2 linked regions of the Homo sapiens genome follow. The protein of the gene in region 1 purifies or fractionates together with the protein of each later gene. This does not show direct contact. Each region holds a gene or a part of one and is shown on either strand. Other genes may lie near its edges. The genes, in order: SNN and TES.

Region 1 (3,911 bases):
AATGTCAAAAATGTACAATTTCACAATGGGTAGGCTGGGCATGGTGGCTCAAGCCTATAATCCCAGCACTTTGGGAGGCCGGGGCAGGAGGATCACCCAGGAGTTTGAGACCAGCTCAGGCAACAACAAGAGACCCTATCTCTACAAAAAATTAAAAAATTAGCCGGGCATGGTGGCATGCACCTGTAGTCTCAGCTACCTGGGAGGCTGAGGTAGGAGGATCGCTTGAGCCCAGGTTACAGTGACCTATGATTGCACCACTGTACTCCAGCCTGGGCGACAGAGCAAGACCTTCTCTCTAAAAAAAAGAAAAAAAATTGCTTCGTCAAATCTGCCCACATTCATAGATATAGGCTGAGTGGGACGATGGCTTGAGCCCAGGAAGGAGTTGGATGGAGGCTGTAGTGAGCTGTGATTGCACCACTGTACTCCAGCCTGAGTGACAGACCAAGACCCCGTCTCAAAAACAAAACAAAAAACCCCAAGGGAGCTACTCTTGGCTGGGCGATCAGGGAGGGCCCTCCTGAGGAAGGGGCACTTAAGCTGAGATCGGGAAGATGAAGTAGAAGAGTTCCAGCTGCAGGGAGCCACATAGGCAAAGGCCTGGCGGTGGGAAAGGCTTGGTGCACTGGGCGCAGGGAAGAAAGCCCAGCGAGGCTGAGTGGAGGGAGTGAGGGCCTGGCCACCTCAGCCTCGTGAGCCCAACCCGCCATGCTCTTCCAGAGGCTTCTGCTTGAGAATGGGAAAGAAGTTTCCAGCAAATAAGGCCCCCGTTCCCAGGAGGAGGTCCCAGCTCGCCCTGCCCCCTCCTGTCTTCTCAAGTCCCCTGGGCCACAGAAGCCTTGAGGGACCCACCCTCACCCCTTCTGTGGGCCCCAGGGCTGGGGTGTCCTCTCGCCGATGGCCTTCTTGGGGTGGATGAGTGGAGATTACTCCAATAACTGGAGCCTCTGTCTTCCCAGGTAGACAGGCCTGGCCTCAAAACCCTCTCTCCATCAGGAGCAGGCTGTGGGACTTCAGCTCTTTGGAGCCTCAGGTTCCTCATCTGTAAAATGGGAAGATTCTTTCTTCCGGAGTCATCTTAATAAAATGTGTTGGGCTGTTTATACAGGGCAGGCATTTGGTGGGGGCCAAACCACCGGGTAATTATGCTAAAAATAACTATGATTATAGGTGGCAGAGGGGTGCAAATGCCTCACAGCCTCATCCCGCAGAGGAATGAGAGCTTCGTCAGGGCCGGGACCTTGTCTGGCTCGTGGCTGCTCCCACGACGACTGGCGTGGCAGGCACGTGGTCAGTGTTCCGCCATCGACTGACTGGGCGGATGAATGATACATAAATGAATTCGCGAACGACTGATGCCCAGCTTCCTCCCGAAGCAAGGTCATTCACCTCAGCGGTCGCGCCTCTCCCCTGCCCCTGCCCCGGATTCCCCGCCGCTCTCAGCTCTCGAGGAGTATGCAGCACTCTTCCGTGCAGCGTGCCTCAGTTTCCTCCGCTGTAAGCAGGCGGGACCAAGGCAGCCTGCCGGGGTCAGGATGAGGCTGGCAGAGGAAGGGCGCCTGTAGTGGGGCCCCGTACCCACGGGCGCCCAATCCGCGCTCGCCAGGGCCGAGCCCGCCCGCCGCGCGCAGCCCCCGCCCCACCGCCTGCCGGCCCCGAGCACACGTGACTCCGCCCCGGCCCGCCCCGCCCCGCCGTCCCAGCGCGGGCTCCCATTGGCCTTTCTGGGAGGCCCCGTCCCCAGCCGGGGAGGAGCCGGGCCCCGCCCGCCGCAGCGCGGGGCTCCTGCGTCCCGAGTGCGCGGCGGCCGGACCGGGCGGGCGGAGCCGGGCCCGCGGGGCTGCTGCGGGGCGATCGGGCCGGGCCGCTGCCGCGCCATGGTGAGCCGGGCGGGGCAGGCCGCGCGCTCGGGCCGGGCGGGGGCGCCGGGGCCCGGGGGCGGGAAGGGGGAGGCCAGGACGAGGAGGGGCGCGCGCGGCGGCGGGGCCGGGCCGGGGTCTGCGGGCGGGGGAGGGGCGGCCCGGCGGGCGCGGCTCGGGGGAGGGTCCGTTCCAGGGGCCGCGCCCGCGGGCTGGGGTTCTTTGTCAGCGGCGCTGCGGCGAGATCCGGACAAAGGAGGCGGCGGGGGGCGGAGGCCGCTTTGTGGGGATCGCGGGGCGCTCGCCCCCGCCCGTGCAGCCCCCGCCCGTCCTCAGCTACGCTCCCGCCTTCCCCCGGCATTTCGGGGTTCTTCAAAATTCTGGGAGCTCCGGGGAGGGCTCCGGGGATAGGGGTCCAGGTGACGTCCGGCGCCCGTCTCGCGGGTAGGGAAACTGAGGCCGGGCCGCAGCGTTCGGCGCCCGGTTCCGTGGGCAGCGGCTGCGCGGCGTGGGCATGCCTAGCTCCCCTGGTCCCCGTCCCACACCCCGCCTCCGTCGGGCCGATTCGAGCTACCTCCCCAGCTGCCGTCCCCTCTCCAGCTGTCGCCCCCTGGGCCGAGCCCCCTCCTCCCTGGAGCCTCGCTTTGCTCCTCCGTGGAGTGGGGGAGACGCCGGCGCCGCCGGGCAGGGTGGAACGGGAGGGTGCGCGGAGCGCGCCTGGCACCGCGCCTGCCACGCCGCCCGCGCTCAGCACTCGGGAGCCGCCGGGGCGCTGTCACCCCTAAGTCCCCAGCACCCAGCCCAGGTCGCCCAGCCCGCCCCAGCGAGGGCCACACTGGGGTTCACCTGTCCGCGGCCCCTCAGGCACGCGGGAGAGGAGGTAGGGAGAATGTGGCATTTTAGAGTCAGGGTCGAAATGCGGGATTTTGGATGCAGGTTGCCTGGGTTTGAATCCCTGCGCGTCTACTTTTGAGCTGTGTGACCTTGGGCAATGGACTTAACTTCTCTGAGCCACCAATTTCTGTATCTGCCAAGAGGGAACAGTAATAGCTCAACTGCCCTGTTGTCTTGAGGCAGAAAGGAGACATCTGCGTGAGCTGTTTATCTCAGTGTCTGGCACATATAATTGCCACCAACTTTCTCCGGCATCTACAAGCAAAGTTGTTTGGCCAAACAGGCCAACCCTGGGGCAGCCTGTGAAAATGACCAGCGGGTGATTCACAGGGTGGGGGCATGAGCCTCTGGCCTGGCCCGAGGAAGACCCCGACTGACCTTGGGGCAGTCCCGGTTCAGAGCTCTGCGGGCTCCCGCTTCCTCTTTTGCCACTGGGGAACCTAGGGGATTCTGGAGCGAGTTTCCTCTTCTGAGGATGGGGGTGTCATGGGTGGGGGTGGAGGATGAGATAACACTGGCCAGAGAGCTGGGCACAGCCCCATCAGTGTCAGTCCCACTGGCATCCGGCCGTTCTTGGTCCTGGCTTCTGGAGGGCTGGGGCCTTGTGTGATGCGTCCTTGTGTCCCACTGGCTGCTGGAGGCCCAGGGCAGAACGGACGTCCCGCCTCGTCCTGGCTGTGTCCAGCAGTGCCCTCTTCTCCCTACAACCCTGTTTTCCCAGTCAGAACCTGGGGCAGGAAACGTTTCTGGTTTGTGACCCGGGGTTCGCTGAAGAGTTTGTTGGCACCCTTGGCAGGTGGCTTTATGGGGGGAGGCAGTACTGAAAGCCCCGTAGGGATGGCTGGTCCCCTGTAAGCAGGGCAGCCCTCCTGGCGTCTGTCAAGGAGCCTCAGGAGGTGGCGGCTGCAAGGCGGGGGTGTTTTGCTGGTGGTGAGCCCGGCAATGCTCATGATGTGCCCGGTTGAGTTAGGAGGAGGCAGCGTGTCCCTGGGGAAGGGGTGTTTGTGGCACTGGGCCTGGGCCAGGCTCTGTGCCCTTCTGGCCCTGGGGGTGGGCTTGGGGATCCCTCGGGCTCAGTGTTCTCCCTTTGTCCCTGCTGTAGCACACAGGAAGGTGTGGCTGGTGACATGCAAACCTGGTGACCTCATGTCCCTT
Region 2 (3,911 bases), on another chromosome or scaffold:
CAGATTCATTCTCCATGCCTCAGTACTCTGTGCTATTTCCCAGAAGGCTGATCCTTAAGGACTACACCTGTGGGATCCCTTGTCACTGGCAATGGGACAATGGGAGGTGCCAGCAGAAAATCAGAGTGATGAAGAATGAGGTCTGGGTATTTATCTCCTGGCTTTCTGTAAGTATACAAGGTGATAAAAAGGAAAATGATTCCTAACAACTTGGGGGTATGTGGAAGCAGGGGAAGGGGGTGCTGTGGGCTGAACTGTGTTTCCTCAAAGTCATATGCTGAAGCTCAAACTCCTAATGTGACTGTATTTGGAGCAGGGGCTTTTAAGAAGTAAAGTTAAAAGATGTCACAAGGTGAACGTCACAATCCATTGGAATAGGTGACCTTATAAGAAAAGGGAGAGAGATCTCTTCCTCTCCAGACACACACACACACACCCACACACACCAAGGAAAGGCCATGTGAGCACGTGGTGAGAAGGCAGCCGTCTGTAAGCCAGGAAGAGAGACCTCACCAGAACTCAACCATGTTGGCACCTGATCTCGAACTTTCCAGCCTCTAGAACTGGAAGAAAGTACATTTCTGTTTAAACTACCAGGTATGTGATATTTTGTTATGGCAGCCTGAAAAGACATACATGGGCAGGGAAGACTTCTCAGAGGTATTTCTTGAGCTGAGACTTTTTGTTTCCTAGTGGTGGGAGGTAGGGTTTTCCAGGCAGAGAACACCATGCAATAAGGCACAAAATTTCAGGGAATAGTATGTATCAAGCACTTGGATCATAGAGTGCTTGGAAGGGAAGTGGAAGAGGCTGGAAAAGCAAGCAGAGGCCAGATGTTAGGGTTTAATGTCAAAGGCCAAGAAATTTGCCTAAAAGAAGTCCAGTGGGAAACTACTGAGGGTTCTTAAGTCATCTGAAGTATGTAATAGTATCCATGTTCAAAAGACCATTCTTGTGATTGTGTGAGAGGCCAGACTAATAAAGAGGTAGAGAATAATTTAACTCTGATTTTTGAAATGTGCCCGATGGAGCCCTCAGGGTCCTAAGTCAAGGATCACCATGAAGCTGGAGGAGGAGGCTAAGTGGGCAGGGTCATGGGATCCCATGTCTACTTCACCCACATAAGTTCTGTGGCCCTAGACTAGACCTGGAATCTTTGTTACACTCAGGACAACTAGTCTAGAATATTTTACTTCAAAGACTGTACTGAAAGAGGCTACATAGGGAGGTCAAAGGCACCTGCTTCAGCTCTTTTAGCTATGGTGAAAAAGTCAGGGAATTATCAAGAATTCTGAGAGAAATGTGACTGGACCCATGCCAGGAAGATGTCAGAACTACTAAGAAATACCAATGGGGTGGACTGTTATCAACCCCAGCTGAATGACAGGCCATATGCAAAGTCCTAGACTATTATGGCTCTTAGATTTTCAGACTACACCCAGTTGATTAAATGAGTCTGTGTGATAAATTGAAATGTAAAAGGTTATTTTCATGCCATGGAGATCTGCTCTTGTCGGATATATTTTCATCTGAAAATATCGATTAAAATGATTAATATAGACATAACAAAAATGACTAACTTGCTTTAGAGAAAAGATGATATCTCTTAGGAATGAGCTTTAAAATCTCACGAGCGGTTTTTGGCAACTGCATAGCAGAACTAAAAAGAATGCAGGTTAAGTATCTCTTACCCAAAATGTTTCACAAGTAAAATAAAACAGAAGTGTATCAGATTTCAAATTTTTTTTAAATTTTGGAATATCTGCATAAACAATGAGATATCTTGGGGATAGGGCCCAAGTTTAAACATAAAATTAATTTCTGTTTCATATACAGCTTATGTACATAAGCTGATGGTAATTTTATACATATTTTAAATAATTTTGTACAAGACACAAAGGTTTGAATGCATTTTTGAATGCAACCTGTCACACGGTCAGGTATGTGAAATTTTCCACTTGTGGCATCGTGTTGACACTCAAGAAGTTTTGGTTTTGGAGCATTTTGGATTTTGGATTTTATGTATTATAAGATTGTAAGGTAAAAACTATGCCCAGGAGAGGGCAGTGCAGCCTTCTGTAAAGTTAACTAATAGGCCCAATAGAAAATAGTGTGAGCATTAAGAGCAGAGATGTTCTAATTCATGAAAACTATTTTGTGTTAAGTCACTTTACCTTTTTAAAACATGAGAGACATACTGCCACTTCTATGTCCCTTGAAGAGACAGCACAAGGGAGAGCTGCTTAAGTCTTGTAAAAAAAAATTCTGGAAAACTTTAGCTCCCTAAAACTGAAGAATTGTATCAAAACTGAAGAACTGTATCAGTTCTAGCAGGTTTCTACTGACTTTCCTATTTTAAACAATTATCTTTGTTTCTGAAAACTGATTCAATAAACTAGTTTTTAAAAGAGATTAATGTCTAAAATTTTATTTGTTTATATTCTCCTTTAATTTACACTGTACACATCTCCAAGAGCTGATGAAAGTATTCTAAACGGTTTCCTGTGGAAATCTGTAGTACAGAAGTGTTTCTCAAATGAGAGTCATCCTAACAAGGTAGCTGCCATCCTAAAACTGTATAGTTATCTTTATTTTTTTTTCCTGCTAATTCTAACTTTGAGCAGACTTGTGAATTACCACTATGGACTTGACAGTCATTCATAAGCACAGGTTTCAAATACTGATTTTAGATTTATATGATATGCAGTAGTACTTTCAAAACAACCTAAAGATAAGATCTATAGAAAATTCACATTTTTGACTCACTAACATTGTCTTGTGTATATATGCACTTCATTCAAACCAAGACACTACAATTAATTTTTTTCTTAAAAAAATTCAAGTGTTTCAATGGTTTTTCACTAGTAACTTTACAGCTAAAAATTTTAAAGAGATCTAAATTCAACTTCATTTCCTGATAACTAACATATACATGCTTGATTCAGTATTCATATTTGTTTACGGAAAATGTAGACATGAGATGTAAAGTTACCAATTTTTAAGAAGAGAATAATTAAATTATTAAACAGGGCCAGGCATGGTGGCTCACGCCTGTAATCCCAGCACTTTGGGAGGTTGAGGTGGGCTGATCACTTGAGGTCAGGAGTTTGAGACCAGCCTTGCCAACATGGCGAAACCCCATCTCTACTAAGAATACAAAAAAGAAAAATTAGCCAGGTGTCGTGGCACAAGCCTGTAATCTCAGCTATTCAGGAGGCTAAGGCAAGAGAATCGCTTGAACCAGGAAGCGGAGGTTGCAGTGAGCTGAGATCACACCACTGCACTCCAGTCTAGGTGACAGAATGAGACTTCGTCTCAAAAAAAAAGTAACAAATAAATTATTAAACAGTCCTGGAGGATTACCACAAACTTATTTACCACCAGAAAGATGATATATTCAGTATTTCAGGCTCGAAGGAAATCTTAAAGACAGCAAGCAAATCCAACAACTCTAAATAGTTATTATGGTCCAATTCACTAAGTCAAACTTAATGACAGTAAGACAGAACACTTTTTATGTTGTATTCATTTCTCAGAAAAGACAGTAACAGGTCTGCAACTTAGCAACCATGCTGGAGAACTCGAAGATATCTCCACTGTCTGAGGAAGTATTGCAAAAAGTATAAATTACTAATGTGGTTGCAGTTTTCAAAACAATACCTCCAGAAGTGCAGTTCGAATCCTTCACATTTTTCTTTGCATTTTAAACAAGGGGCTCCAAATCCTTGCTCGTGACCTAAGCCCATCTGTTAAAAAGAAAACATCATGAATCTGTTATTAGATTCTTTACAAATCTAAAAATTCAATAAATTGCACTTTTAATTCCACTTACCACTTGTGTTGAGATAACTTTCAAACAAATCTTATATTTAGTCAATGATGATACCCAGGTATGTACATGGCAGTTCCAA

Evidence for each region.
Region 2: the proteins of SNN (region 1) and TES purify together in Homo sapiens (affinity purification with mass spectrometry; 2 studies listed by BioGRID and IntAct, with this or other methods). This does not show direct contact.

The regions. Positions count from the first base shown.
Region 1 is NC_000016.10:11,666,658-11,670,568, forward strand, and holds the start of SNN (stannin), read left to right. Parts: upstream 1-1,797; 5' UTR 1,798-1,883; intron 1,884-3,911. UniProt on the Homo sapiens protein: Plays a role in the toxic effects of organotins. Plays a role in endosomal maturation.
Region 2 is NC_000007.14:116,234,369-116,238,279, reverse strand, and holds part of TES (testin), read right to left. Parts: intron 3,747-3,911; coding exon 3,661-3,746; intron 2,413-3,660; exon of another isoform or gene 1-2,412. UniProt on the Homo sapiens protein: Scaffold protein that may play a role in cell adhesion, cell spreading and in the reorganization of the actin cytoskeleton. Plays a role in the regulation of cell proliferation. May act as a tumor suppressor. Inhibits tumor cell growth.